Homo sapiens: one gene and its partners. Each later gene encodes a partner of the first gene's protein in a complex. Each region holds a gene or a part of one and is shown in the gene's direction. Other genes may lie near its edges.

Region 1 (7,258 bases):
GCTGGGATCACAGGCATGCACCACAGGCTGATTTTTTTATTTTGTAGAGATGGGGTTTCACCATGTTGCCCAGGCTGGTCTTGAACTCCTGGACTGAAGCAATCCTCTCACCTCGGCCTCCCAAAGTGCTGTGATTATAGGCGTGAGCCACTACGAGGGCCATGATGCAATTTTTTATTGTGGTAAAATATGTATAACATAATATTCCTCATTTTAACTTTTTTTTTTTTTTTTTTTTTTTTTTTTTTTTTTTTTGAGACAGAGTCTTGTTCTGTCACCCAGGCTGGAGTGCAGTGGTGGGATCTCGGCTTACTGCATTCTCCGCCTCCGGGGTTCAAGCGATTTTCCTGCCTCAGTCTCCTGAGTAGCTGGGACTACAGGCATGTGCCACCATGCCTGGCTAATTTTTTTGTGTTTTTAGAAGAGACAGGGTTTCACCATGTTGGTCAGGCTGGTCACGAACTCCTGATCTCAAATGATTCTCCTGCCTTGGCCTCCTGAAGTGCTGGGATTACAGGCGTGAGCCACCATGCCTGGCCCATTTTAACTATTTGTAAATGGTATAATTCAGTAGAATTAATTACGTTCACAGTGCTGTGTACCCATCACTGTTATCTGTACTCAAAACTGTTCATCACTGCCAACATAAACTCCATATTTTTAAAGAATGCCTCCCCCTTCCTCCTCCCTCTACCCCCTATTCAACTGTCTGTCTATAAATTTGACTAGGTACTGCATGTAAGTGGAATCACAGTATTTGTCCATTTGCAACTGGCTTATTTCACTAAGTAAAATGTTTTCATGGTCTGTCCATTTTGTAGCATATATTAACTTTATTCCTTTTTATGGCTGAGTAATATTCCATTGTGTGTGTATACCACATTTTGTTTATCCATTCATTTGTAGATGGACCCTTGGGTTGTTTCTACTTCGTGGCTATTGTGAATACTGCTACTATGAGCATTGTTGTACAGATAAATGTTTGAGACCGTGCTTTCGATTCTTTTGGAAATATACCTAGGAGTAGAATTGCTGGCTCATATGGTAGTTCTATGTTTCACGTTTTTAGGAACTGTCAGACTTTTCCATAGCAGCTACACCATTTTACATTCCTACCAGCAATGCTCAAGGGTTCCAGTTTTTCCAAATCTTCATCAGCACTTGTTGTGGTGCTATTTATTGTAGCCATCCTAGTGACTGTGTTGTGAAGTGGCATCTCCATTGTGGTTCTGATTTGCATTTCTCTAATAATTACTGATGTTGACCTTATTTTCATGTGCTTATTGGTCAATTGTATGTCTTCCTGGGGAAAATACTATTCATATCCTTTGCCCATTTTTTTAAATTGGGTTTTTTGTTGTTATAGGAGTTCTTTATATATTCTGGATATTAATCCCTTATCTGTTATAGGTTGAGTATTCCTTATCCATAATGCTAGGATCCAGAAATGTTTTGGATTTTGGATTTTGGATTTTGCAATATTTGCATTTATACTTACCAGTTAAGCATTCGCCTACTTATTTATTTACTTAATAGAGTTGCCCAGGCTGGTCTTGAACTCCTGGGTTCAAGCGATCCTCCACCTTGGCCCCCCAGAGTGCTGGGATTACAGGTGTGAGCCACCGTGGCCAGCCCCAGTTAAGCATTCTAAATCCAAAAACTTGAAATTCGGTATGCTTCAATAAGCATTTTCTTTGAGCATCATGCCAGTGCTCAAAAAGTTTTGGAGTTTGGAGCATTTCAGATTTCAGATTTTTGGATTTGATATGCACAACCTGTAAATGATTTGCAAATATTTTCTCCCGTTCTGTGGGTTGCCTTTTTCACTCTTGATGGTTTCCTTTGATGCACGAAATTTTAAAATTTTGAAGTCTAGTTTATCTAAATTTTTTTCTTTTGTTTCCCATGCTTTTGGTGTTATATCCAGGAAAGCATTGCCAAATCCAGTGTCATGAAGACTTTCCCCAATGTTTTCTTCTAAGATTGTTATAGAATCCTCAATTCAGGCTTGTATCCCCAATGTGGAGCTGAGAGCAAACACTGAGTCACCGGTACTTGGAGATAGAGAAAGGTTTATTCGATTTGGCTAAAGCAAGAAGATGGGAGGGCAAGATCTCTCGAATCCATCTAAACAAAAGGAAGCATTGGGTAGATTTTATGTGACTAGATCTAGTAAGGGAGGGGGAGTTTCACAGAATCCAGTGGAAAAGTCTGTGTTTCTTTGGTCTCAGGTAACGCCTTGAGCAACCAGATGTCTGGTTGTTAGCAGCTGGTCACAGTGTCCTTAAAGCCATTCATTTCTTCTGGCAACATTTTTCTTTACATGACGCTGAAGTTATCTTCTCTTGATTGACAAAGAAGCAGTACATCAACAGTTTATCATTATATTGTGGCAACAAGGGATATTCAGCAAAAAGTGAGTGGTTAACATGCGCAAGCAAGCAAGGGCCTGATACAAATTATTTATTTCAGTCATTAAAAAATGTTAGGGTGCTGAAATCTAGTTTTCCCAGCACCATTTCTTGAAAAGACCATTCTTTCCCCTGTTGAATGGTCTTGACACCTTTGTTGAAAATAATGGCTATATATATGGAGGATTGCATTCTGGGCTCTCTTGTGGACATTTATCTGTATGTCTCCTTGTCCTAATAGCACACTGTTTTAATTCCGGTAGCTTTGTAGCTTGAGTGGCTATTCAGACTGTTTTACAGCTCTTCTCAGGGGAGGAGTATGTCTGATTGCCTTTGCACTAGGGCTTCCCTAAGCCAAACAGCTGCTTATGGGGAGGAAGGAATAGAAATTTATAGAATTATAAAAGTTTTTTTGGCGTTAAGTCTGAGGTGTGTCAGTTCAGTATACTATAGATTGGATTTGGGAGTGGTGGCATAAGAAGGACTTTTCTTTGAATTTCAAGATACTTATTTGTATTTAGTTTAGTCATCTTTCATTAATATATTAGCAGTGGCAAATCCATATGGGTCTGCAGCAGCCTCATTTCTTGCCTCTTCAAAAGAAAGAATTCCACCTAGGGGCATAAGGCAGAGTAAGAGACTAAGATAAGTTTTAGAGCCAGAGTGGAAATTTGTTAAAAAATTTTACAGCAGAAATGAAGTAAAATACATTTGGAAGAGGGCCAAGTGGGTGACTTGAGAGAGTCAAATGCATGGTTTGATCTTGGACTTGGGTTGTTACACGTTGGCATGCTTCCCAGGGGTTGCGTCTCTTCTCTGATTCTTCCCTTGGGGTGGGCAGTCCGCATGTGCAGTGGCCCACTAGTGCCTGGGAGGGGCTGCGTGTGCAGTGTGTTTACTGGAGTTGCGCAGATGCTCACTTGAGGCGTTTTTCCCTTAACAGAATGTTCCTAGAAGGTCATAGATCAGTTAAGCTCCACCATTTTTCCTCTTAGTGCACATGCTTGAGCCCAGTCATCCAACTCCTCAGATCTTATCAGGAAGCTGCTGATCACCAGTTTCAGGTGTTTCTATCTGTTGGGAGACTACCTTTCCCTGGCACTGGCTGCAACCAATGATTAGTTTAGAGAGAAAGTTTAACAACTGCCTGATCATCACCTGATGGTTGCTTGACATTCCTGGTGGGGTGGGGTCCTCTGCTGCCCTGCTCATGTCTGACTACCTACTGTAACAAATGCATTTATTTTCTCAACATTTGTGTTTGTATTAATTATTCAGTGGTGTCTGTAGACAAAAGTTTGCTAAGATGTTATCTTTGAAGTTTATGTAATATTATCCTTTTAATGTTGAGACTCTTTAAGAAGGATTTTGGTAACCATAGACAGTAATCTGTTGATTGCTAAACTTTATTGACTTAGTTTTTTTTTGAGACAAAGTCTTGCACTGCCACCCAGCCTGGTGTGCAGTGGCATGATCTCGGCTCAGTGCAGCCTCCGCCGACCACACTCAAGCGATTCTCCTGCCTTAGCCTCTCTAGTAGCTGGGATTGCAGGCGCCCGCCACAATGTCTGGCTAATTTGAATATTTTTAGTAGAGATGGGGTTTCACCATGTTGGACAGGCTGGTCTTGAACTCCTGACCTCAAGTGATCACCCGCCTCAGTCTCCCAAAGTGCTGGGATTACAGGCGTGAGCTACTGCACCTGAGCTTATTGATGTTTTTAGTAAAGTTTCATCTTATCTGTGTGCCAGAAGATAACTTTTAAATGTGATGTTGGAATTTTACAGTGATCATAAAGCTTGCTTTCTACCATTCTTTTGGTCCCTGTTAAAAGCCTTCACTTAAAAGTGCATGGTAGCTGGGTGCAGTGGCTCACACCTGTAATCCTAGCAACTCGGGAGGCTGAGGTGGGAAGATCAGTTGAGGCCAGGAGTTTGAGACCCATCTGGGCAACATAGTGAGACCCCCCCATCTCTATAAAAATAAGAAAAATTAGCTGGGCATGGTGGCAGGTGCCTGTCATCCCAGCTACTGGGAAGGCTGAGGCAAAAGGATCACTTGAGCCATGATCATGGTACTGTACTCCAGCCTGGGTGACAGAGCAAGACCCTGTCCCTAAGAAAAAAAAAAAAATAATAATAATAGTGGTCCAAATGGGATTAACAGAAAATTATTCTTGAGAGAAGAAATTGCATGCCTTTCTTTTTTTTTTTTTTTTTTTTTTTTTTGAGAGAGGGTCTTACTCTGTCACCCAGGCTGGAGTGCAGTGGTGCGATCTTTGCTCACTGTACCTTCTGCCCCACTGGCTCAAGCGATCCACCCGCCTCAGCCTCCGGAATAGCTGGGGCCACAGGCGTGCACCACCACACCTGGCTTTTTTTTTTTTTTAGTTTTTAGTAGAGACGGTGTCTTGCCATGTAGCCCAGGCTGGTCTTGAACTCCTGAGCTCAAGCAGTCTGCCTGCCTCGGCTTCCCAAAGTTTTGGGATTACAGGTGTAAGCCATCACGCCCAACTCATTTACAGTTAAAGGGTCTAATGCTTGCAGCATGCTTTGTGTGACAAAACTTCTTGTCTGAAAATTCTAACATTTTCTTTTTTTTTTGTGATCAGTTTGCTTAAGAGAGATTACTTATATAACAAAGGTAGGCTTTTGGAGGTAGACTTTTTTTTCATTAAAGGGAGTAATTAATTATAGCTCACTAATTTGTTAGTGATTCCCAGCTATATATGTGGTATTTTGCCATGTACTTGTAGGAACTTGTGGCCCAGAGATGTATCCAAGCTTATATACCTAGTGAATGATAGAGGAGTTTCTGTGTGATTCCAGAGTCTGTGTGTCTTTTCCACTCTACCATGCTTTCTTTTTGTATATAATTTAAATTGTTATTATTTTTTTTTTAGGTTAAAAGGACAACTCTGGTGGATAGCAGAACATCTGTTACTGATGTGAAGTTTGCTCCCAAGCACATGGGTCTTATGTTAGCAACCTGTTCCGCAGATGGTATAGTAAGAATCTATGAGGCACCAGATGTTATGAATCTCAGCCAGTGGTCTTTGCAGCATGAGATCTCATGTAAGCTAAGCTGTAGTTGTATTTCTTGGAACCCTTCAAGGTAAGTTTACATATTAAACCTCTGATAACATCCTAGTAAAATAAACTAGTAACTTTTAAGCTAACAATTTGATAATTTATTCTCTCAAAGGTGCTTCTTCTCAAGATATATAGAGTATATGTTCTCCATTTTTCACCCAGGCATGTCATTTGTCCCTGTTTTCACTCAACAGAGGAAGCCGGCATTGTAAATATTTTCATGTGAACCTTTTGGATGTTTTCTATGCATATGCAAATAACTATTTAATGTTGTCATAAACACATATATGCAAACACGCCCAGATATTCACTAGCACAAGTAGACACAGAACACCAGATATTGAAACCCATACATTTGATTGATTGATTGATTGGTTGATTGAGACAGAGTATTGCTCATTTGCCCAGGCTGGAGTGCAGTGGCACCATCTTGGCTCACAGTAGCCTCCACCTCCTGAGTTCAAGCAATTCTCCTGCCTCAGCCTCCCAAGTAGCTAGAATTACAGGCATGCGCCACCACGTCTGCCTAATTTTTGCATTTTTAGTAGACATGGGGTTTTACCATGTTGGCCAGACTGGTCTTGAACTTCTAACCTCAGGTGATCTGCCTGCCTCGGCCTCCAAGAGTGCTGGGATGACAGGCGTGAGCTGCTGCACCCAGCCAGAAACCCTTACATTTTCCTTCCTTGCAATTAGCTTTTTTCACTTAAAGATACATTGTGGGCATTTTTCCATATATTAATATATCTAGTCTTACCTCATTTCTTTTTAACTGCTGCATAGAGCATGACTATATGAATATTACCATAGTTGCTTTTTATTAAACTGTTTTTAAACAATTATAAGAATCACTTGGTGAAGAAAAAAATTGAAATAATCCATAAGAATACAAAAAGAAAGGTAAAGTTCCTTTACCCCCTAAAAACAAATGCTGTCAATAGTTCTGTTTTCAGACTTTAATTCTGGTAGTCACTAGTATATTTTTAAAGGATTTACTTATACCTTTGGTTCTTGCTATGTTATCTTTTTTTTAAAAATTTTTATTCTGCTATTTTTCCACATGTTCTTGCTATGTTATCATTAAAGAATATCCAAACTGATAGAAAAGATGAATAGAGCACATTTATACAACTTCCACATCCCAAGGTATGACTAGATAGATATCTTATTTGTGGTGATGTTGATAGTTGTTGGAGTTATACTGGTAATTATTATAATTTCAAATAATATATATATCTCTACACATATTTATCAATTTTTAGACTATATATTTACTCCCGTCTCTTTTTTTTTTTTTTTTTTTTGAGATGGAGTCTTGCCCTATTGCCCAGGCTGGAGTGTGGTGGCATGATCTCGGCTCACTGCAAGCTCCGCCTCCTGGGTTCAAACGATTCTCCTGTGTCAGCCTCCCAAGTAGCTGGAATCACAGGTGCCCGCCACCACATCTGGCTAGTTTTTTTTGTATTTTTAGTAGAGACGGGGTTTGTCCATGTTAGCCAGGCTGGTCTTGAACTCCTGACCTCAGGTGATCTGCCCGCCTTGGCCTCCCAAAGTTCTAGGATTACAGGTGTGAGCCACTGTGCCTGGCTTCCCCTCTCTTAAAAAAGAGGGAATTAGTTTATTGCTTCCCCCTCACATTGCCCCTTCCATTTCCTCATTCTTTTTTTTTTTTTTTTTTTTTTGAGGTGGAGTCTCGCTCTGTCACCCAGGCTGGAGTGCAGTGGCGCAATCTAGGCTCACTGCAAGCTCCGCCTC
Region 2 (8,201 bases), on another chromosome or scaffold:
ATTCCCAATTTTTACAATGATGTCTAACACACAGTAAAAACTCAATATTTGTTCAAAAAATGACTGACTACATAAAATAAAATAACATTTTGTCATTGTTTTCGAGATTCAAAATTTATCTTAACATGCATTGTTTAAAATATGCAAAACTGCCAACTATTCACAGGTAGAAAACACTATCCCTGTTTTAAGATTTTATACTTTTTAATTTTTAAGTGTTAAAATATTCTTCCTTTTTCAAAATGATGATCATAGTATATAGTAACTATTTTTTCTCAATGGCCTTATTTGCAAAAATGAGAAATGGTTAAAATCTGTCAGTGTCTAATAATTTTTTAGAAATTTTACTGTCTATGGAATCTAAAAATCTGGAAACTACTGACATATAAAATTAAAATAACTCATCAGAATGTCATTTCAATATCTAGCCCAACAGACCCATTGAAGCTAATTCTACCCTTCAAAAATCCTCTTCTCTAGTCAAGCCAGTATCTTTGCCAAGTTCATACCATGACTTTGATTCCCCTGAACCCTTCTTCTGAACTGACTTTCCTCATCATACCTCCTCTACAGCCTTCTCTTCCTTTATCTAAAATCTATCTAATATCACAAAGCCTTTCCTTACCACTCTATCCTACATTCATCCTTCTCTCATCTGAACACCTCTAACCCTTAATCTACGGCTTAAATCCAAACGCTAGTTTGGCTCAAGCTACCTAAGTAAGAATCACTTTGTGGAAATTTTTTAAAGGCAGTTTCCAGTATCCCGGTGCAGATTGGAAGAATTTCCAGGATTGGGGTACAAGAGCCAGTAGTTTTTAAAAGTTTAGGGAATGAAAAAAGTCTTATTAAATAAAAATAATTTGACCACAATAATAATAGTTACATGTTTATCCTAAATCTTCCTATTAAACATCAAATATGCATGTCCCGTGTATAACCATACATAAGAGCTTAATTTTGAAATAATTCATTTCAAATTCTATCATAACATTCTGACACAGATACACAGAGGCATTTGTGAAAATGGTGTATTATCACAGAAGGGCACATAATGTAAAGAAATTAATATTCTTAAGCTTAAGTTTATTCAAATGGGCAGCAATGAAATTTTGCTTTAAAAAAACAAGTTAACCCAAATATAGTTTACCAACCTGTTTGTTGTTCTCCGCCATAGAAAGCTGCAATGCCAAGAGCATGGAGTCTGCACCACATAGAGTAGTTCTCTCAGAGTTACAAAGAGCACGCCAATTTTTTCGAAACTCTTTAATCATATCCGAGACAGACTTCTGATTAAACACAGCCATTATCTTAAAGTAGGACAGAATACAAAGTTAAAGTATCTTATGTTAACCTGAAATTAACATTTAACATGTATAGGCAAGCACAGATAGAGAAAAACATATAGTGAATGAGAGGTCATTTCATATTTACCAAGATTGCTTTTAATTAAATTTAGGAAAACAAAATAATACAATTTCTGCGCAATCATATTTCCCTCCCCTTTGGTTTCTTAAGCCAAACCTTCTGAAAGAACAAAATGTAGCCTTCAATTCTGAAAATTCACACAAAAACAGACATGCAAATTTACTGCAAACTTATAATTACAAATATACCTAATTAAAGCTGTATTTAAATATATATATTTGTTTTGAGATAGGTAATAAGTCTGATAAATTGGGAAAAAAAAAAAAAAACCTAAAAAGCCAATTTCCTCCCATCCTACGTTGTCCCAAAAGAGGTGGCCTATTTTTCTACCCTTTTGAATCTGGACCAGGCTTGTGACTTGATTTAACCAATAGAATGTGGCAAGAATGACGCTGTGGGAGTTCTGAGCTTAGGCCTTAAGTGGTGTGTGCAGAAGTACTAATACAATAGGCCTGAATGCTCTCCTTTGAAGCTGGAGTCCAGTTTGGGAGCTTAGATTTCAGGAGTGTTTCCAGTAAGAGTGGTTCACTGTGCTAAACTGTTCATACAAACAATATAGTTTATGCTAAACACTTGCGAGTCTGGAATTTTGGTACATGTCAGACAGTGGATGCCTTTGCATTTAGCCCCCAATAAAAACCCTGGGCATTAAGTCTCTAATAAGCTTCCCTGGTAGACATTTCACATGTGTTGTCACCACCTATTACAACAGGAGGAATTGTGTCCTGTATGACCACTAGAGTATCACCAAGCAGTGTCCCACCCAAACTGCTGATCCACAGAATCAGAAGGAAATGGTTATTTTAAAACCTTAACTTTTGAAATGGTTTGTTACACCGTACTACATAACCAATAAAATAACTAATATTTAGGAGCTAACTTGGTGGAGATACTTTTCAAAAGCTTAATATTGATTACCTCACTCGACTGTCATAAGTGTCCAATAAGACAGGTCTGTTATTATCCTTATTTTACCTAATAACCTCCACGTCACTCAGCTTGTAAGTGGACAAACAGCATAAACTTAATATGTCTAACTCTATAAGCTGTGTTCTTAAAGCATCATGTTAAGTAACTTCTCCTGATGCACACAAAAGCCTTTCAAAATAATTTGAGGTAGTGCCAATGTTTCATATACCCAAGACTATATAAGGCATCCAATTCCTTTCTCTGAGTTTACAGACATGCCTGCTAAAAGTTTTTTTCCTACTTTAAGTACTCAAGTCTCAACATACTCACATGCCCATCATCTTATTTTGGGTATTTTCCTGTACTTATTCCATTTCCTGACTCCTTCTGCTATCCTTTTCTTCTATTTTTATGTGGCATAAACAGAATCCTAGATGTTTACTTTGGTTTGTATAATCAAGAGCAAAGATACATGCCACTTGCAATATAATTAAATTATAGACACAATCTATGATGCAACTTAAAGATACAGGTAGAAGATTAGAGATTAATTATTTACATAAATGCAAATCCTAGTAAATAGCTAAGAATTGTATTTCTCTTCAAAAAATCACCCTCATCTCTTGAAAGAAAAAAGAAAGTGAAGAACTGTCAGCTTCAGTGACATGGTCACTTTGCCTGAAATACATTTTTAGGAGTAAATTACTTACTGGTATTATTTAAAGGTAGTATTATGAGATTTGATTGCTATGAATGAAGACTCACTTGGGAATTAGGCCATTCTGAAATGTGGCTCCACCACTTACTGGCTGCGAGATCTTGGCCAAGTTACATCACCTTTCCCTGCCTCAGCTTCCTCATAATGAAAATGAAAACCCTATCCCATAGGGTTTTATGACAAGTCAACGACATAAACACAAGTAAAGCTTTTAGAACAGTGCCTGGCATGTATAAAAGCACATTAGCTATTATCATGCATTATGAGTTTCTAAGTTGTTTTGAGTTAAAAGTAAAAGAGCATTGCCTGGGCATGGTGGTTCACACTTGTAATCCCAGCACTTTGGGAAGCCGAGGCTCACCTAAGGTTAGGAGTTCGAGACCAACCTGGCCAACATGGTGAAACCCTGTCTACTAAAAATTAGCTGGGTGTGGTGGTGTGTGCCTCTAACCCCAGCTACTTGGGAGGCTGAGACAGGAGAATCGCTTGAACCAGGGAGGCGGAAGTTGCAGTGAGCCAAGATAGCACTACTGCACTCCAGCCTAGGTGACAGAGTGAGACTCTGTCTTAAAAAAAAAAAAAAAAAAAAAAAAAAGAGCATTACTATGGTGACAGAAAACCAAGAGTCTCATTCAGGGATCAGCTAATTTTTTCTAAAGGAACAAACAGTAAATATTTGAGGCATGCACAACTACTCACTTTGACCTTCTAGTGTGAAAATAGCCATGGACATACATAAACAAACAAATGAGTATAGCTGTGCTCCAATAAAACTTTTTTTATGGACACTGAAATTTGAATTTCATGTAATTTTTACACATCACAAAACATTATTCTTTTCATTTTTTCCCCCAACCATATAAACACGTAACACTCCTTCTTAGCTCAGGAGCTGGCTGCACAAAAACAGGCAGCACAGCCAGTTTGCCAACCCCTGGTCTAGTCCCAGCTCTTCCTGTAGCTAGCTGGCTGTGGGAGCCTATGCCATAAGCCTTACACGTGGTTCCTAGGTGGAGGCATCATCACACAGAAATACTTGCCTTCCAGTCCCTTGTGAGAAGTCAATGAGACAATAAATATGCAAGCACTCTGAATGGCAGGCTGCACTATACAAAAAAACAGTAGCCAAAGGCAGCAGCGATAACACTTGTTTTTAAAAAATTGGATTCCAAGTTGCTCTAGAGCAAAAACTGTGAGACAGAAAATTGTCACTGGGCAGGCAGTGTGAAATGGTTGAAAGAACTACACTTCCGAGTCAGATATCACTTCCAGGCTCCCCCTTTATGACCTGTAGTCCTTCGGTATTTAAAATCTCTAATGAGCATAAGTTTCTTCACCTGCAAAACCAGGAAGGGAATTCCTACCTCACAGAATGAGACGTTAGTGAAACAAGTACATAACCCACCTAGTGCCAGGCATTTAGTAGGTGCTCAATTTAAAAATTGCACTCAACATCATTATCAGTGTTCGAGTGCAAGTCCCAAAGGTTCCTTGGGAGGCTGTAACTAATCAGGAGTAGGAGAAAGTTGAGGAATTGGAGTCCGTGTACATAGTGGGACTAGAACCCAGGTTTCCTGCCTAACTAATGGAAGTTAAGCAGGCCTCTACGGGCCTGTCTTCCAAGCTGCAGACGAACCCTCAGGACCTACCAGCTCCATCGCTAGATACTGTGAACTCCGCCTACAGCCCCCAGGCCCAACCAGGCTCGAGCGTCAAGTCACTGCACCATAATACTTCGGTCCCACGGCACTTTGCTACGACCGAGGTATTACAGTGCAAAACACCCTCAAAAGCCACAGCCTGAATCACCACTTAAAAATGCGACAGGGCAGGTAGGGCAGACGCGAGACTTACGTGATTAGGGGTAGACCCGAAGACGTACTCTTCAGTGTGCGGAAGGATCCCCAACGGGATGCCCTCCCGCGGCCGCCGCAGTCGCCGCTGTCGCCGCTGAATACAGTTCAAACCTCGCGGGAGGCCCCGGGAGCCAATCGCTGCGCTCGCCCTCCGACCCGGAAGCAGAGCCACAGCGCGTCGCGGCAGCCCCCAAGGAAGACCAGCCTGCCTCTGGTCGGTTCCTGGCGCTCTGCGGTGCGTATCGAGCTGGGAGCCCGAGAGGCCGGGATGCTTTTCTGCCGGCCGCCCAGCCTTGCCACTCTATTCCCAGGAGTTCTTCCTTCCCACTTCGGGCCCCGGGAGGTGGGAGCGGGGTCTTGAGGAACTCGCCTGGCCCGGGGAGAGGTGTCGGCGCTCATTGCAGAGACTTATCTTGTTCCCTCCCTTCTTCTCTGCCGTTGTAGTTTTACAGGGGCAAGTCCTGTCCAACGTGTACGGTGAGGCCCCGGCCACTGCTTTAATGAGCAGTAGGTGTAGGGACGGAACAATTTCGTGACCTCGAATCTCTTGCACTTCTATACCTCTCTGTCTCCGTGTCCATAACACTTGCTGGTCACCCTTCAAAAGTCTCCAGTCCCTGATGTCCATTCCTAAAGTTACTAGTTTATAAGCGTCTCGAGGTGGGACTCATTCTCAGTACATACTCTTAAGGTGCTTGATATGTTTGTTACTGAGTCCAGCTGTTTTCAGGACAACCCTTGTGTCGAATTTTTTAAAAAACCAAAAACTCTAAAACCCATAATTCTCATGTGGGAATGCTACTTCCAGAATGCACACTAGTCCCTGACAGGTTAAGGTCTTCTGCCTAGTTTTAAGAATATTATTATTTTAATTTTTAAGTTCCGGGATACGTGTGCGGGACGTGCAGGTTTATTACAAAGGTAAAACGTGTGCTATGGTGGTTTGCACACCCATCACCTAGGTATTAAGCTCCACATGCATTAGCTATTTATCCTGATGCTCTCCCTCCGCCCAACCCCCTGAACATTATTTTTATATCACACATTTTGGTACTCCTTAACAACAGATCCTGTATTTTCTATCTGTTTATATTATAGCCCTTTTCACGTTGAGTCATAACTATCCCTAAACTGTGGTCTCCTTCAAGCCAGGAGGCTGTTTTTTTCTTCATTAGCGCTGGTTCTCCACACACAATGAAGTCTTCCAAATCCTGGCCCTGCTTATGAGCTTGGCAAGTTAGTTAACCTACTGAAGCCTCAGTTTCTCCATCTACAAAATGGAGACCAGAGGTAGTACCTGCCTTTAGATTTGTACAGATACCAGATGTGATCATGTCAGTAAAATGCTTAATATGGTACCTACAAATAGTGGTTCATAAAAGTTATTAATTTTTATTAACATTTGCTGTTAAAATGATTCCATCTTCAGATGAAATACTATTTGTTTTAGATAATCTAAACAGAACTTTGCAGTGTTATTGTCTGCTAGAATCACAGATATGGGAAAGAGCTGTGGAGCAAATGTGGAACCATTAATAACTAGATTTAATATTTTTCCTGCAGTTTCTGTCCCTTGATAAGTACTTTAAATGTTTCTTTTGAGCTTTCTGTCTCATTGTAACACCACAACCTTATTTTGATGCATTTGCTGAATGACTAACATATTGACCATTGTAATTGTACCTGTGCTCTAATCCACAGTTTCGTGACCTTGTCCAGTAGAAGGCTATTTAATTTTCACAACTGCTTGAATTTTGACATACAAGATGAAGCAAGATGCCTCAAGAAATGCTGCCTACACTGTGGATTGTGAAGATTATGTGCATGTGGTAGAATTTAATCCCTTTGAGAATGGGGATTCAGGAAACCTAATTGCATATGGTGGCAATAATTATGTGGTCATTGGCACGTGTACGTTTCAGGTTAGTCTACAAAACTGCACCGAATGACAGTGAACATATTTCACTACTAAGAGAACTTACACAAACCAAATCTAAACTTTGAAAGTATATTGAGTTTGAATGTTAAAAAAAAAAAAGATAAGATCCATAGAGAAAGATGTTCCCAGTTATATGTGCCTGAGATTTATGTAAACATTATATAGATAGTGAAAAAGAATGGTATGAGGCTTCACTTTTGCCTCATGATCATTAATGGAATATTCTGATAAGTGAAGGCTATGATTAACTGAACATTGGTATGTACAGGAAAAAAACAATATAAATGAGATCCAATTAATTACGGTTTTTCTACATCCTGCTTTGACATACAAAACCAGCTAATGTTGAGAGCCCAAAAAACAATCTTCCAGGAGATTTTATAGCTTTTATAATATTCAGCTTTCCTATTAGTATGCTGTCATACTTTTTGTGCATCTAATGTATGCAGAATATGGAGTCATATTAATTGAGCAGGCAGTTAAGCATAGCCATTAAGAGCATGAATTCTAGAACTGGAATGCCTACATGTTTACTCCTGCTTTACTTACTTCTTACTAGCTATGAGACCTTGAATAAGATATTTAGCATCTCCTGTAAACATGAGGAAACTAATGCTTGAATTTTAGTATATGTAAATATACTAAATAAAAATTCCAAGAGGGCATCTGACAACATTGTAATCCATATGTATGTTTTAGTTGTCATTGATACGAGCAGTGGTAACACTCTCAGGTTTAATCACCAAAGTAAGATTGCTTTGTGGTGAACATAAACCATGTTTTCCCAGAGGAAAGCTAGTTTTACATGTAAGAGAGACTTGGAACAATGAAGGTTCAACCCTCAGGACTATCTGGTTAATCCTTTGTCTATCAGAGTATTATTATTATTTTTATTTTTTTTTTTCAGACAGAGTTTTGCTTGGTCGCCCAGGCTGGAGGTCAACCTCGGCTCACTATAACCTTCATCTCCCGGGTTCAGTTGATTCTCCTGCCTCAGCCTCCCAAGTAGCTGGGATTACAGGCATGCACCACCACACCCAGCTAATTTTTGTATTTTTAGTAGGGGGTTTCATGATGTTGGCCAGACTGGTCTCGAACTCCTGACCTCAAGTCATTTGCCTACCTCGGCCTCCCAAGTGCTGGGATTACAGGTGTGAGCCACCCTGCCTGGCCTAGCAGAATATTATTAATAGAACCGTATTTCTCAAATTATAATGAGCACGGTAATTTGGAAGTGTCCAATTTTCAAAGATTTAAAATAACTATCACTAAAGTGATAGTTATTATAAATGTTATTTCCTCCTTTACTGAGAAGGCAATTCTGTTTTTGTTTTGTTTTGTTTTGAGACGG
Region 3 (7,258 bases), on another chromosome or scaffold:
CAAAGTGAGACCCTATCTCAAAATACAAAAAATTAAAAAAAAAAAGGTGTTCCAAGAGCAAATTGAGGAGAGAAGCCAGATCATAGGGTGGCATGAACAGGGGCAGCAGGAACCGGTTTTAGTGAATGAAGTAACCCTCAAAGGCAAGGCGTAGAATCAGCCAGTTGGGAGAGGCTGCTGCCCTCTCTGTTGGAAGGCAGGGAGAAGATACAAGGGAGTCGGGGAAGCAAAGGGCCCCTTGGGACCAGCGGGGGAGGCACAGGTCGAGGGGTTGAGTTAATTTATAACATTTAGAAAGGAATTAGGCATACCTTTTCGTCAAAGTCAGGGGCAGGAAGAGAAGCCAGATGTAGGGTCAGAAGATTGTTGATGTGGACATGAGGCAAGATGGTGGCACTTGTAACAAGCCGTGGTTCAGAATAGTTGCTGTCTGGCTGGCTGTGCCTAGTGATGTATGAAATATTGAAGAGTGAATTTTTGGTTGAAGGTGGTGATGCAGAGAAGGAACCAATAAGAACTGGCCCTTGTTTTCCTGCCCACTCACCCTGTGACCTTGGACAGATCATATTCTCTTGCCTCAGTTTCCCCATCCATAAAATTAAGAAATTGGATGAAATTATTTCTAAAATCTTTGCTCTCTGAAGGTGGCCATGAAGGAGATTCTAGATACTGCATAATTATCCGCAAATGTCCTGATCTTTCATGAAGTTATTTCATAAAGCACCCTGAACCTTTTCAGGATAATTTCCCTTTGACCAGAGTTAAGATGAAAATATGATTCAGTCAATTAAGTACATTAAGGATTGATTATTCATTTTACAAAGAGATACATCACTTTACCAAAAAATTCTTTTGAATGGTAAGATGCCATGATGCATTTGAAATAACCCGTTTTGCAAAAATATGTTCATCTCCAGCTCTTCGAGAGCATGTAAAAGGACGAACATTTGCAGAGGTGAAAGTTTAGTGTGACATTAAATCCCAGCATCGCTCTTTACCTGCTAATTTGCCAGTTAGTATTTCACATCATTTAAGTTTCTGCTCAAATGTGATTTCCTTGGGGAGTTCTATCTAAAAATAGTTCCACCATCAGTCTCTGTCCTCTTATCCTGTGTTATTCTTTATACCAGATGTTTTATCAGATATTTGTCTCTTTCTACCACTGGAATGCGAGATCTATAAAGATAGAAATTATTTTATTCATGCTGTAGTCCTGGTACCTAGAATAGTGCCTGGCATATGAGAAATGTTCAGTAGATGTTTGTTGAATGGATGGATGAATCTCACTCCATTTCAACCTCTAGCAAATAGACGTTGAATCCAGAAGAATTTCCAGGATTCTTATTTGGTGATTTCTAGGGTCCAAGGACTATCAACTGGTGACGTGGTCCCGGGATCAGACCTTGAGAATGTGGCGGGTGGATTCCCAGATGCAGAGGGTATGTATGCAGTGCTATTGTGGAGAAATGTACCTGAATCCACCAAAAAGTGTAAGATTCAGGATTTGCGGAAATTAGAGGTTACAGGATAAACAATTTTTTTTTTTTTTTTTTTTTTTTGAGAGTGCGTCTCACTGAATCGCCCAGGCTGGAGTGCAGTGGCACGATCTTGGCTCACTGCAACCTCTGCCTCCCGGGTTCAAGCGATTCTCCTGCGTCAGCCTCCTGAGTAGCTGGGATTATAGGCGCCCACCAACACACTCGGCTAATTTTTGTATTTTTAGTAGAGACGGGGTTTCACCAAGTTGGCCAGGCTAGTCTTCAACTCCTGACCTCAAGTGATCCACCTGCCTCAGCCTCCCACAGTGCTGGGATCACTGGTGTGAGCCACCTTCCCCGGCAGGATAGACATTTAATACATACTTACTGGTTGGCTGAGTAGCTGGTGTGTACCACACCAAGGCTTTGAGGTCTTTAAGAACCAACTTCAGTATTCAGCACTTTAAGGCCAGAGAGCCTCTAAATGTCTTTCCCCTCCTTATTCTAGCATAAGATAGTATGGGTAGCTCCCTGAGTATGTGCCCTGTGGGTTCATTTCTTTCTCTTCTAAATGGGCTAAGAAGCCTACCCTTGTACGCTGCAAATGCTTGGAGGCTTCTACATCTATCAGCAACACTGCTTTTATGAAGCTGTTTGTAATTTTTTCCCGATAAATGATATCTGTTTCTTACATGAACCACACACAGTAGTACCTGGCATGAGCTGCTTTGGTGGCCCTTGCTCTGCTCTGCCTTATCACAGGGTTCTGTCCTCTCCTCATTTGATGGCTAAATTTCTTGACAGTGGGAAGGTGTCTCACTTGTATTGGATCTCCCACAGCGCTTGGTACATTGCTTTGCACAGAATGAATAGAAAATACTGGATAAAAATTTCAACACTGCTTAGTATGAAGTCACTCTTGAGCAGTTTGATCAAATCTCATTACCTTATTGCATTTTCAATCTGTTTTTTCCAAAAGGTACAATTTGCACCAAATGCCTTGAGGTTATGGTTTTCGTTTTTTTTTTTTTGAGATGGAGTCTCTCTCTGTTGCCCAGGCTGGAGTGCAGCCACGTGATCTTTGCTCACTGCAACCTCTGCCTCCTGGGTTCAAGTGATTCTCCTGCCTCAGCCTCCCGAGTAGCTGGGACTGTAGGCGTCCGCCACCATGCCTGGCTAGTTTTTGTATTTTTAGTAGAGACGGCATTTCACCCTCTTGGCCAGGCTGGTCTCAAACTCCTAACCTCAGGTGATCCACCTGCCTCGGCCTCCCAAAGTGCTGGGATTACAGGCATGAGCCACTACGCCTGGCCGGTTATGATATTTTTGCTCCTGGATTAGCTGAATAACTCCATCAAAGCTTGGAGTTTAAATTAATTTTTTTTCTGAGGCTTGCATAAACTCTGAACATGATGAAAAAATTTCCAGTGTTGAATAATAGAGTCTGTTATCCCTGGTGTTTAACCAGGGAGAGTTGGCAATGGGTAAAATCTATTTTGATTATGTCAGCTCTTGGCTGACACATCCCCATCCTTTGCCCTTCCCATTTTTAAGTCAGAACTCTTTAATCAGACATGACAATCATTTCCACGGACTTCTCTAGAACTACATCTTCTACCCTTTGTTGCAGCTTTGTGCAAATGACATATTAGATGGTGTTGATGAGTTCATTGAGAGTATTTCCCTTCTGCCGGAACCTGAGAAGACCCTGCACACTGAAGATACAGATCACCAGCACACTGCAAGCCATGGGGAGGAAGAAGGTAATTTGTCAAACTGATGTCTCAGGTAAGGTGCCACTCTACGCATTGCAGAGTTGTGGCAGATACCCCAGACCTGTTCTCTGTTTCATTTTCAAAAATGCTTTCCAACATTGAACTTCTCTCTCCTGCTAGCCCTAAAAGAAGATCCCCCTAGAAATCTCCTGGAAGAGAGGAAATCAGATCAACTGGGGCTGCCTCAGACCTTGCAGCAGGAATTCTCCCTGATCAATGTGCAAATCCGGAATGTCAATGTGGAGGTACTTAGTTTAATCAACTGTATCTCATGTTTGCTGATGGCAGTTTGTGGGAGAGGGAACCATTTCAGCAATGATTTCAGTTAGCAAATAGCTTTGCAGCTTTAACAGAACTCTCTCTGCTTGCTTTTTTATTTCCTGGGTTTTCTGGCCAGGCGCGGTGGCTCACGCCTGTAATCCCAGCACTTTGGGAGTCTGAGGTGGACAGATCACTTGAAACCAGGAAGCCAGGAGTTTGAGACCAGCCTGGCCAACATGGTGAAACCCTGTCTCCACTTAAAAAAAAAAAAAAAAATTAGCCTGTAATTCCAACTACTCGAGAGGCTGAGGCACAGGAATCACTTGAACTTGAGAAGCAGAGGTTGCAGTGAGCCAAGATCGCACCACTGTCCTCCAGCCTGGGTGACAGAGCAAGACTCTGTCTCAAAAAAAATAAATAAAATAATTAAATAAATAAATAAATAAATAAGTAAATAAAGAGATGCAGACTTTCTTTCTACCCCTATTCTTTTCTCCTAAGATGAGCCAAAGGAGAACCTGATGCTCGTGTGCCTTAGCTCCTCCTTAGATGCTCCAGCATCTCATTTTACTGTAGAGGAAGATACTTAGGCCCTGGAGGCTTAGTGATTTGGCAGAGGTTGCTGCTGAAGTTGGGGACAGAGTTGACTTGGGAAGCCAAACCTCCAGCCCGTCCAGGGCACTCTGTGCTGTGCTGTGCTGTGCTGTGCTGGGCTGTGCCATCTTCTCTCACAGGCTGGCCATTTCCTGGTAATTTAGATTCACAGTAAGAAGGCAACCAAAACTTCTTTGTTTGCTTAGCCTGTGGAACAGTTACTTTTTTGGGGGCAAGTATTGAAAGTCTTTGCTTCAGAAAATTGAGTATCTCTCCAGAAAGGAGTTTTAAAGCTTGATTAGTTTTTCCTTTACCCAAATATGTGCTGTTACATAACTATCTCATGTGGCTTTTAAAACAAGTCTGCTGGCCAGGTGCGGTAGCTCACGCCTGTAATTCCAGCACTTTGGGAGGCCAAGGTAGACGGATCACAAGGTGAAGAGATCGACACCTTCTTGGCCAACATGGTAAAACCCCGTCTATACTAAAAATACAAAAATTAGCTGGTCATGGTGGCGTGCGCCTGTAGTCCCGGCTATTCACGAGGCTGAGGCAGGAGAATCGCTTGAACCCAGGAGGCAGAGCTTGCAGTGAGGCCGAGATCACACCACTACACTCCAGCCTGGCGACAGAGCAAGACTCCGTCTCGAAAAAAAAAAAAAAAATAGTCTGCTGTAAGTGGTTTTAGCCTCACTTTACAGCTGAGGAAACGGAGACATCAAGAGAAGAAATGTCCAAGGTCAGCAGCTATTTGGTGGAAGAAACAACATGTGAATCCAGGTCTCCAGATTTGCCACATGTGGTTCTTTTCTCTTTACTCCAGCTGCTGTCTCTAGTTGGCAACACAAGAAATGAAAAGATATAAAGGATTCTTTGCTTAATTAGTGATCTATATCAAGTCAGTTTATACTCCCTTTGTCCCATTTGAGGACAGTGTGGATACCTAGTGATCTAGTTTAAGATCTTGATTCCTTTCTTCGAGAGTACTTTAAAAAAATTATTGAGATATAATTCACACAGTATAAAGTTCATCTTTTTTTTTTTATTGAGATGGAGCCTTGCTCTGTCCGCTCAGACTGGAGTGCAGTGGTGCTACCGTGACTCACTGCAGGCTCTGCCTCTCGGGTTCACGCGATTCTCCTGCCTCAGCTTCCCAGATAGCTGGGATTATGGGCGCACGCCACCACGCTCAGCTAATTTTTTTTCGTATTTTTAGTAGAGATGGGGTTTTTGCCATGTTGGCCAGGTTGGCCTCGAACTCCTGATGTCAGTTGATCTGCCCACCTTGGCCTCCCAAAGTGCTGGGATTACAGGCGTGAGCCACTGTGCCCAGCCAAAATTCCGCTTTTTAAAGTATATAATCTGGCTGTTGTGGGTATATTCACAAAGTTGTACAGCCATTACCATTGTCTGATTCCAGAACATATTCATCATTCCCAGAAGAAACCCCATACCCATGAGCAGTCACTCCCTATTTCCCCTTCCCTCAGCCCGTGGCAATCCCGAATCTACTTTCTTCCCCTATGGATTTTCCCAGGAGCACTTTTTAAGTTGAGTCTGGTATTTAACTTCTTCCTGCTTTATTTTCCCATCTCAAAGTAAATATAACAAGTTTCAGTCTACCCCACAGCTTTGGGAGGGAGGAAGCTTTGTTAAAGTCAGAATACTTTGAACTTCGTGGTGGCTCATGCCTGTAATCCCAGCACTTTAGGAGGCCAAGGTGGGTGGATCACTGGAGGTCAGGAGTTTGAGACCAGCCTGGCCAACATGGCGAAACCCCATCTCTACCAAAACACAAAAAGCAAAACAACAACAACAACAACAAAACAAAGATTTGCTGGGCATGGTGGCCTGTAGTCCCAGTATTTGGGAGGTTGAGGTGGGAGAATCACTTGAACCCAGAAGGTGGAGGTTGCAGTGAGCTGAGATTGTGCCACACTGCACTCCAGCCTGGGTGACAAAGTGAGACCCTGTCTCAAAAAAAAAAAAAAAGAATACTTTGTGTTGGGAACAGGCCCCCTGAAATCTGGCCATAAACTGACCCTCTGTGTTGTTTGTCTTTGTGTAGTCTGCAGATGTGGATCTTGACTCCTGCAAGAAGTAGCTCACCGTGACAAAGCTGCCTTTGCTTTTATCACTTTGCAAATCAAAGAAGGGGGACATGTTGGGAACAGGCCCCCCCCCCCCCCAAAATCTAGCCATAAACTGGCCCCAAAACTGGCCATAAAGTCTCTGCAGCACTGTGACATGTTCATGATGGTGGTGATGCCCACGCTGGAAGGCTGTGGGTTTACCGGAATGAGGGCAAGGAACACCTGGCCCACCCAGGGCAGAAAACCGCTTAAACACGTTCTTAAACCACAAACAATAGCATAAGCAATCTGTGCCTTAAAGACATACTCCTGCTGCAGATAGCTAGCCACAGCCCATCCCTTTATTTCAGCCCATCCCTTTGTTTCCCATAAGGAATACTTTTAGTTAATCTATAATCTATAGAAACAATGCTTATCACTGGCTTGCTGTGGATAAATACATGGGTAAATCTTTGTTCAAGGCTCTCAGCTCTGAAGGCTGTGAGACCCCTGATTTCCCACTCCACACCTCTATATTTCTGTGTGTGTGTCTTTAATTCTTCTGGCACTGCTGGTTTAGGGTCACCCCGACCGAGCTGGTCTCAGCAACTTTGAGCTTATTCCATTGGTTTGAAAATTTTAAGAATCTGGTATGAAAATTTAAGAATCTTTTTGAAAATGAATTGTCTTCCACACACATTTGTCTTTGTAGACTCTTTCCCTTCATTCAATTACCAGGAACATGGAGCGTTCAGTTAAATGTGCTTGCATCGAAAGACGCTTTATGGTTTGTTTCTACAGCAATTGTGGATTTGTCTCTTGCAGATGGATGCGGCAGACAGGAGCTGCACAGTGTCTGTGCACTGCAGCAACCATCGTGTCAAGATGCTGGTGAAGTTCCCTGCACAGTACCCAAACAACGCCGCCCCTTCCTTCCAGTTTATTAACCCCACAACCATCACATCCACCATGAAAGCTAAGCTGCTGAAGGTGGGGGTCTGGGTTCCCAAATTCTCCTTGCTGTTCTGCATCATTGTCTAGATGGATTAGTAAAGAAGAATGAAAACTCCAGTAGATG
Region 4 (7,488 bases), on another chromosome or scaffold:
ACGGGGACGCTATATTTCGATTTAAAAAAAGAAAGTGACACAGCACTCATCCTATCCTAAAATTATCATCAGAAGAAGGAATACAGTAACTAAGGAGAGTGATATAAAGAAACTCCACATAAGGTTTTTAAAGCCTATGGTAGCCCTGAAAAAAGTTAGAACATCAGACACACAACCCTCTGCTGATCCAGGACCTGCAAAGGCTCCTGAAATACAAGTCTCTCAGGAACAGCATCCCCTGTTCTTTCTCCGCCCCGCACGGAGCTTTCCACTGGACAGCCGCCCGAGAAATTTCTCCCAGCATCTGCAATGGCAATACTCTCATCTTCCTCCCCTCGCCTGTATCAGACGGTGGCATCTCCCTCCAGGGGAAAAAACGGAGGGCGGGGGAGGCTGCATAAGAGGGAAAGCTTGCAGCGAGGTTGATTATGGAGGAGGAAGGTGAGAAAAATGCAGGGGACGAGGGTGGGGTCTCCTGAGCGCCAGCCCACTCTCCATAAGGCCTAGCCCACACGCTCCCACCCCGAAGGCACGCCCCTCACAAGCCGGACCCGGACGCGGACCTGAGTGACAGCAGCATCACCTGTACTGCACTCCCTCCCCCAGGGCCTGCAGGGAGACGACTGCCCCTGCCCCCACCAGCAGCGGCCCCTGGCTCTTTCTCTCCCCTTCCAGTCCACGTCGTCGACGAGTGACAGGTCCCGAGGGAGGCGACTGCAAGCGCACGCCGTTCGGGACTACCGGGGCAACTCTGCGCCGAAGCCCTCCAACAGGCGCGCGGGGACAGACAGAACGTTCCGGACGGCCCAGGGGGACCCGGTCCAGGCCCAGCCTGCCCCAGCTGCCCTACAACGGGCGGAGGTGGCACTTACTGCGGAGATTGTGGATTAGCTCCGAGTGGCTGGCGCCGCCGGATTTCCAGGCCATCGCTAAGCACACTCGGAGCAGGTACAGAACCACCTTCAGCGCGACGACGGTGCCCAGCAGTTTTCCCAAGAGTGAGACCACCTCCCACACCGTCACCGCCCCGCTCGCGTCCCCGCTGTAGCTGCCGCTGTTACTGCCGTCGCCGCCGCTGCCGCCACTGCGCGCTCCCGGCATCCCCCGCGGCACGCATGCGCTCTGTGACGCCGCGCGGCTTAGGGTGCGGCCGGGTGGGGCCGAGGGCGGGGGAGGCGTGTGGCCCAGCCGCCCGCCCCTGTGGCTGCTACCGCTGCCAGGGGACTGCAGGGAGGCCGGGCTGAGTCAGCGCCACTTCCGCTGCTGCGTGTCCCTTTCTGAGGCCTCGGACCGCACCGCTTTCGCCCTGCGGCCCGGCTCGGTAGCCTGATCAGTCGCGTTCCCGGCTGTGTCTCCGGTCACCGAGCGGGACGGCGGGATGGCGGGGTCGATCTGTGCAGACGCTGCTAGTGGTTCCGCAGTCGTCGCTGGGTCAGCTGTTTCGAGCGGCGGATCTGCTCCTATAGATGTCCAGATTGTTAGACGGTGGGCTTCATCCGTCCTACCTCGCCCAACCCAGTTGACTAATATTTGGGTCGGTGGAGCCCGAATAATACAATAAGAATAAAACCCAACGACAAAGGCCCTCTCTAACCCGAGTACACCGGCCTCTGGCTTTGTGACAAGCACGTCACTGTTAGGCTAAGCAGAGACTTTGGAACCCCGGTTCTAAAGCTCTCAGAGTGGAAGAGTACCAGGACATGGGGGTGGGGGTTGGGGCAAAGCTTTGCTCCCTTAGAATAATACCAACGTACAGAGTTGCGATTGGTTAAAAAATACCACTGTGTCCTTTGGTGAACGTGTTATTCTCCCGACGTAAGTGTGCATTTCCACCTAATTAAGCCTCACAAATTCCACCGTGGCTTTATTGCTCTCAGCTCTGCAAGACCATGAGTGAGAAGCTCACTGAGAACATTGCTTGTCGCGTCCAAATCGCTGACTCCTAATTAGACCTGAGACTGACAGAATCCAGCCATCATCTAGTCCAGTAACTTTTTTTTTTTTTTTTTTTTTTTTTTTTGAGACGGAGTCTCGCTCTGTCGCCCAGACTGGAGTGCAGTGGCGCGATCTCGGCTCACTGCAAGCTCCGCCTCCCAGGTTCAGGCCATTCTCCTGCCTCAGCCTCCCGAGTAGCTGGGACTACAGGCACCCGCCACCACGCCCGGCTAATTTTTTGTATTTTTAGTAGAGACAGGGTTTCACCGTGTTAGCCAGGATGGTCTCGATCTCCTGACCTTATGATCCGCCCGCCTCGGCCTCCCAAAGTGCTGGGATTACAGGCATGAGCCACAGCGCCCGGCCTCCAGTAATCTTTTAGAAGGAAACAAAGCTAAGACATCTGTGCCACTATATCAGCACAATTTTCAAATTCTAGTTCTTATCCGATTTTGTAAAATGTGACACTGGCCTGCTTCCAATCCAAAATCAACATTACCTATTTTCTGGGATTATGTGACCATAAATGAAACTACAGGCAAAACTGGTTTCTTTTTGTTTTTTTGCTTTTGATTGAGACGGAGTCTCACTCTGTAGCCCAGGCTGGAATGCAGTGGCATGATCTTGGCTCATTGCAACCTCCACCTCCCAGGTCCCGGTTCAAGCAATTCTGCCGCAGCCTCCCGAGTAGCTGGAATTACAGGCACGCACCACCATGCCCAGCTAATATTTTTGTATTTTTAGTAGAGACAGGGTTTCACCATGTTGACCAGGCTGGTCTTGAACTCCTGACCTCGTGATCTGCCTGCCTTGGCCTCCCAAAGTGCTGGGATTACAGGCGTGAGCCACCGTGCCTGGCCAAAACAGTGTTCTTTACTTCAATATTAAACATGAATAAAATTGTTGATTTGGGACTGTAACCCACTTAATATTTTCCATTTCATCTTTCTACAGTTTCTTGATGATCTTCCATTTGGAGAAAAGAAAAAAGTCAAATCCTTGATAGGAAACTGGTAACTCTAAAGCTGACCCAGATGGATTGCATTTACATGCAGTGCTTCCGTAAACTGTCCCTGTGAAGTAGGACTACCAATATCACATAAAAACAACAGTAGCATAATGGCCCTTTTTAAAGAAATAACCAACATACAGTTATGAATACCTATAGTGTAAAAGAGCTTCATTTTTTAGTTGAATAAGTCATATCTCTTGTATTCAGTAGGATTTACATTCTAATGGGGGAGGAATATGCATCTAAAGAAAACTAACATAAGATATATCCAAAATATATGTCATTAGTGGTCTAGATATCAAATGCTAGCTCACGCCTGTAATCCCAGCACTTTGGGAGGACAAGGCAGTTGGATCACCTGAGGTCAAGAGTTCGAGACCAGCCTGGCCAATATGGTGAAATCCCGTCTCTCCAAAAAAAAAAAAAAAAAATTAGCCAGGCATGGTGGCGCACACCTGTAGTCCCAGCTACCCTGGAAGCTGAGGTGGGAGAATCACTTGAACCTGGGAGGCGGAGGCAGAGGTTGCAGTGAGCTGAGATTGTACCACTGCACTCCAGCTTGGGCCACAGAGACCCTGTCTTAAAAAAGAAAAAAAATGGTGTTGATTTAGATCAACATTGGCTGGGGTCGTCAGGAAATGGTAAAGGAAAGAACAGATCCTTGAAGGATAGGCAGGATTCTGAGGAGTAAAGAGGAAGGGAAGAATATTATAGGTGTAACCAAAAGCACAGAAGGAACCTAGAAAACTGATTCCTGGGCCGTTGACAATAGGTATCACAAACTTCATTCTTAATCATGCACGTAATTGAATTGATCAAAGCTAGGCAATTGGCATCAAAACTAAAACTGGAGTCTTTCAGAATTCCAACTCCAGGCTCTGACAGTGTGTATTAACTTTGAAGCAAAGTATTTGTTTGGGAGACAAGAGGGAGAGGTTTGGGATAGTAGGTTGGCACTTTATTCGAGGTACTTCCACGAGTATTTAAGGATTTTTGAATCGTTTTCTATGCGCAGTGACCTGCAACTGCTTAGGTGTGGTTTCAAGGTGGTTTCTACTGCATTGTTTTTGTTCTGTTTTTGCACTTAAATTTTACACTGCACAATTATTGAACACAAGAAAATACTGACATTGCAGATTAGGAGCAAGTCCTACTGCTCAAAGGCCAAAGCGCTCTTGCCTTTGCTCAGAGCTGCTCTGTGAGATGGGTGGGCCTCTCAGTCTAGGTACTGACTGTGCCCACACTGGCTATCGACGAGAATTGACTCTCTGCAGCCACCGTCTCCGTCCTAAAGTCCCATCCAATCAGGGTTCCGCGGGAAGAGGCGGTGCTGAGAGGCGCGTACTGTGCTTGCTTTTTGCAGTACCTGCTGCGGCCGCTTTCGGCATGGAGGAAATTTATGCGAAGTTTGTGTCCCAGAAAATCAGCAAAACCCGCTGGCGACCGCTGCCTCCGGGAAGTTTACAGACCGCGGAGACGTTCGCTACAGGATCTTGGGACAATGAGGTATCGCCGCTGATAGGGACGAGCCCCTACCTCCTCCCTCTCTCCGGTTGAGCTGACCCCTGGCCTTCCGCGCGCCAACTCCCACCTTCTGGTTCTTCTCGCACTTTTAGGTCCCCCGGACCCCTGTCTCAGGCGCGGTTGCTCCGTAGCTCAGAGCCGGTGATGGCATGCCTGAGCCTCGTATCTCGTTGTGTTTTAAACTCACCATACCATTTGAGATGTTTTGGAGCAACATTTCCGGACGGGAGCACAACTTTTATTTTCCGAGAGTTGACGTTTATGTCATCTCAAGACAAAACTTTCTGTTTTACAGGAAAATTATATTTCACTGTGGTCTATTGGAGATTTTGGAAACTTGGACTCTGATGGAGGGTTTGAAGGAGACCATCAGTTATTGTGTGATATCAGACACCATGGTGATGTAATGGATTTACAGGTAAATCTGTGTAGCATCCAAAAGCTAACTTTGAAAGTCCTGAGTAATACATTTAAACAAGCAGAGCATCATAAAAGTTGTCTGGTGTCACCCCTCGTTTACAGAAAACTGAGTGCTCTGTAAGTTATGATTTGCCCAACATCATTTAGCCATTTAGTGGCAGAAAAAGGACTGGGAAAGGGGATGTAGATTTAATCATACTTTTTTATTAATTGACTGTCGACTATGTGCTAAATACCGTTTGGGGAGCTTTACAAAAATTAATTATTGTTGCATGCCAGTGAATCAAGTATCGTTACTTTGTTTTACTAATGAGAAAATTGAGACTAATATATCTTGAGCATGTACTATGTGACAGATACTGTGCAGGGGGATAACATCATTTTGTTTTTTGAATTCTCATAACAACTCCCTAAGTAGAGATTAGTGCTCCCGTTTTAAAGATTTACCACGATTTAGTGAACTTAACTTGGCCAAAGTCTCAAAACCAGTAATGAGTGGTGGGGATGAAATTGAGTTTTCTTTTTTTTTTTTTTTTCCAAGATGGAGTCTCGCTCTGTCACCCAGGCTGGAGTACAGTGGCATGATCTGAGCTCACTACAACCTCCGCTTCCCGGGTTCAAGCGATTCTCCTGCCTCAGCCTCCCGGGTAGCTGGGACTACAGGCGCAGGCCACCATACCCGGCTAATTTTTTGTATTTTTAATAGAGACGGGGTTTCACCATATTAGCCACGATGGTCTCTATTTCCTGACCTGGTGATTTGCCTGCCTCGGCCTCCCAAAGTGCTGGGATTACAGGAGTGAGCCATGGCGCCCGGCCGAAATTAAGTTTTCAAATCCTGGTGTGGAGAGCCCCTGCATTTTCCATAGAAAGCTACCTAGCCCTGGTGCGCGCTTGTAATCCCAGCTACTCTGGAGTCTGAGGCAGGAGAATCGCTTGAACCCGGGCGCAGAGGTTGCAGTGAGCCGAGAGTGCGCCAGCTTGGGCAACAAGAGCGAAACTCTGTCTCAAAAAATAATAATAATAAATAAATAAATAAATAAATAAATAAAATAAAAAAGAAAGCTATCTAGCTCTAGGAAAGATACATTTTTTTTTTTTGGAGACGAAGTCTTATACTGTCACCCGAGCTGGAGTGCAGTGGCGAGAGCTCAGCTTACTGCAACTTCTGCCTCCTGGGTTCAAGCAATTCTCCTGCCTCAGCCTCCCGAGTAGCTGGGACAACAGGCACATGCCACCATGCCTGGCTAATTTTTGTATTTTTAGTAGAGATGGAGTTTCACCATGTTGGCCAGGCTGGTCTTGAACTCGTGACCTCGTGGTCCACCCGGCTTGGCCTCCCAAAGTGCTGGGATTACAGGTGTGAGCCACCATGCCCAGACGATATTTTCCTTTCCTTTTTTTTTTTTCTTTTTTATGACGAGTCTTGCTCTGTCACCCAGGCTGGAGTGCAGTGGCTCGATCTCGGCTCACTGCAACCCCACCTCGTGGGTTCAAGTGATTCTTCTGCCTCAGCCTCCTGAGTAGCTGGGAGTACAGGCACATGCCAGCACGCCCAGCTAATTTTTGTATTTTTAGTAGAGATGAGGTTTCAACGTATTGGCCAGGCTGGTCTCGAACTCCTGACCTCGTGATCCGCTTGCCTCAGCCTCCCAAAGTGCTGGGATTACAGGCGTCAGCCACCGTGCCTGGCTTTTCTTTTTTAAAATTTTTATTCTTTTTTTGAAACTGAGTCTTGCTCTGTCAACTAGGCTGGAATGCAGGGGCTCAATCTTGGCTCACTGCAACCTCCACTTCCCTACAACCCCAACTCATTTTTGTATTTTTGTAGAGACGAGGCCTCGCCATCTTGCGCAGGCTGGTCTTGAACTCCTGAGCTCAAGTGATCCGTCCACCTAGGCCTCCCAAAATGCTGGGATTACAGGCGTGAGCCACTGCACCCAGCCAGGAATAATATTTTCCTAAGGTTTTATTGTGTTGGTCCCAAATTAAATCAATTGTGGGTGAATGTGTCTAGGAAAAAATATTGTTTATTCATGAAAATACTTTGTATGGCAGTTTGGCCTTTCAGCTTCATTAACACATTTTATTTCCTTAGCACTCATGGCTCTTTGCTTTTTAAAATTGTTATAAGATTTGCTACTAATTGAGTTAAATAAACAAATGGACTTCCTCCCTGCTAATATTTCTGAATCTTTAACAAGCAGAAATTTTCTCTTTAGTTTTTTGACCAGGAAAGAATTGTCGCTGCTTCATCAACAGGATGTGTAACAGTTTTCCTTCACCATCCAAATAACCAGGTAAAGAACTTTAGTTTGAGAAGTGATTTTTTTTTTTTTTGAAATGGAGTTTTGCTCTTGTTGCCCGCGCACTGGAGTGCAGTGGCGCAGTCTCGGCTCACCGCAGCCTCCACCTTCTGAGTTCAAGTGATTCTCCTGCCTCAGCCTCCCAAGTAGCTGGGATTACAGGCACGTGCCACCACGCCCGGCTAATTTTATATTTTTAGTAGAGACGGGGTTTCTCCATGTTGGTCAGGCTGATCTCACCTGACCTCAGGTGATCAGCCCTCTTCGGCCTCCCAAAGTGCTGGGATTACA

Evidence for each region.
Region 2: SEH1L (region 1) and NUP37 share a complex: the UniProt entries of both Homo sapiens proteins name them as parts of the nup107-160 subcomplex of the nuclear pore complex.
Region 3: the proteins of SEH1L (region 1) and WDR59 are in contact, whole or in part, in a cryo-EM structure (PDB 7UHY), measured with the Homo sapiens proteins. Residues at the interface, in NP_112493.2 of Homo sapiens: Asn308, Tyr309, Met310, Asn312, Lys314; in NP_085058.3 of Homo sapiens: Pro713, Asp714, Glu716, Thr717, Pro718, Arg721, Arg837, Glu840, Gln843, His844, Asn847.
Region 4: SEH1L (region 1) and NUP43 share a complex: the UniProt entries of both Homo sapiens proteins name them as parts of the nup107-160 subcomplex of the nuclear pore complex.

The regions. Positions count from the first base shown.
Region 1 is NC_000018.10:12,957,847-12,965,104, forward strand, and holds part of SEH1L (nucleoporin SEH1), read left to right. Parts: intron 1-5,313; coding exon 5,314-5,525; intron 5,526-6,589; coding exon of another isoform or gene 6,590-6,649; intron 6,650-7,258. UniProt on the Homo sapiens protein: Component of the Nup107-160 subcomplex of the nuclear pore complex (NPC). The Nup107-160 subcomplex is required for the assembly of a functional NPC.
Region 2 is NC_000012.12:102,116,995-102,125,195, reverse strand, and holds the start of NUP37 (nucleoporin Nup37), read left to right. Parts: upstream 1-5,081; 5' UTR 5,082-5,146; intron 5,147-6,612; 5' UTR 6,613-6,677; coding exon 6,678-6,833; intron 6,834-8,201. Other genes in the region: PARPBP (PCNA-interacting partner), read right to left, coding at 1,155-1,307. UniProt on the Homo sapiens protein: Component of the Nup107-160 subcomplex of the nuclear pore complex (NPC). The Nup107-160 subcomplex is required for the assembly of a functional NPC.
Region 3 is NC_000016.10:74,912,110-74,919,367, reverse strand, and holds part of WDR59 (GATOR2 complex protein WDR59), read left to right. Parts: intron 1-1,359; coding exon 1,360-1,439; intron 1,440-3,108; coding exon 3,109-3,241; coding exon of another isoform or gene 3,242-3,266; intron 3,267-3,373; coding exon 3,374-3,498; intron 3,499-7,005; coding exon 7,006-7,170; coding exon of another isoform or gene 7,171-7,221; exon of another isoform or gene 7,222-7,251; intron 7,252-7,258. UniProt on the Homo sapiens protein: As a component of the GATOR2 complex, functions as an activator of the amino acid-sensing branch of the mTORC1 signaling pathway. The GATOR2 complex indirectly activates mTORC1 through the inhibition of the GATOR1 subcomplex.
Region 4 is NC_000006.12:149,743,341-149,750,828, reverse strand, and holds the start of NUP43 (nucleoporin Nup43), read left to right. Parts: upstream 1-4,299; 5' UTR 4,300-4,333; coding exon 4,334-4,453; intron 4,454-4,766; coding exon 4,767-4,889; intron 4,890-7,113; coding exon 7,114-7,191; intron 7,192-7,488. Other genes in the region: PCMT1 (protein-L-isoaspartate(D-aspartate) O-methyltransferase), read right to left, coding at 873-1,101. UniProt on the Homo sapiens protein: Component of the Nup107-160 subcomplex of the nuclear pore complex (NPC). The Nup107-160 subcomplex is required for the assembly of a functional NPC.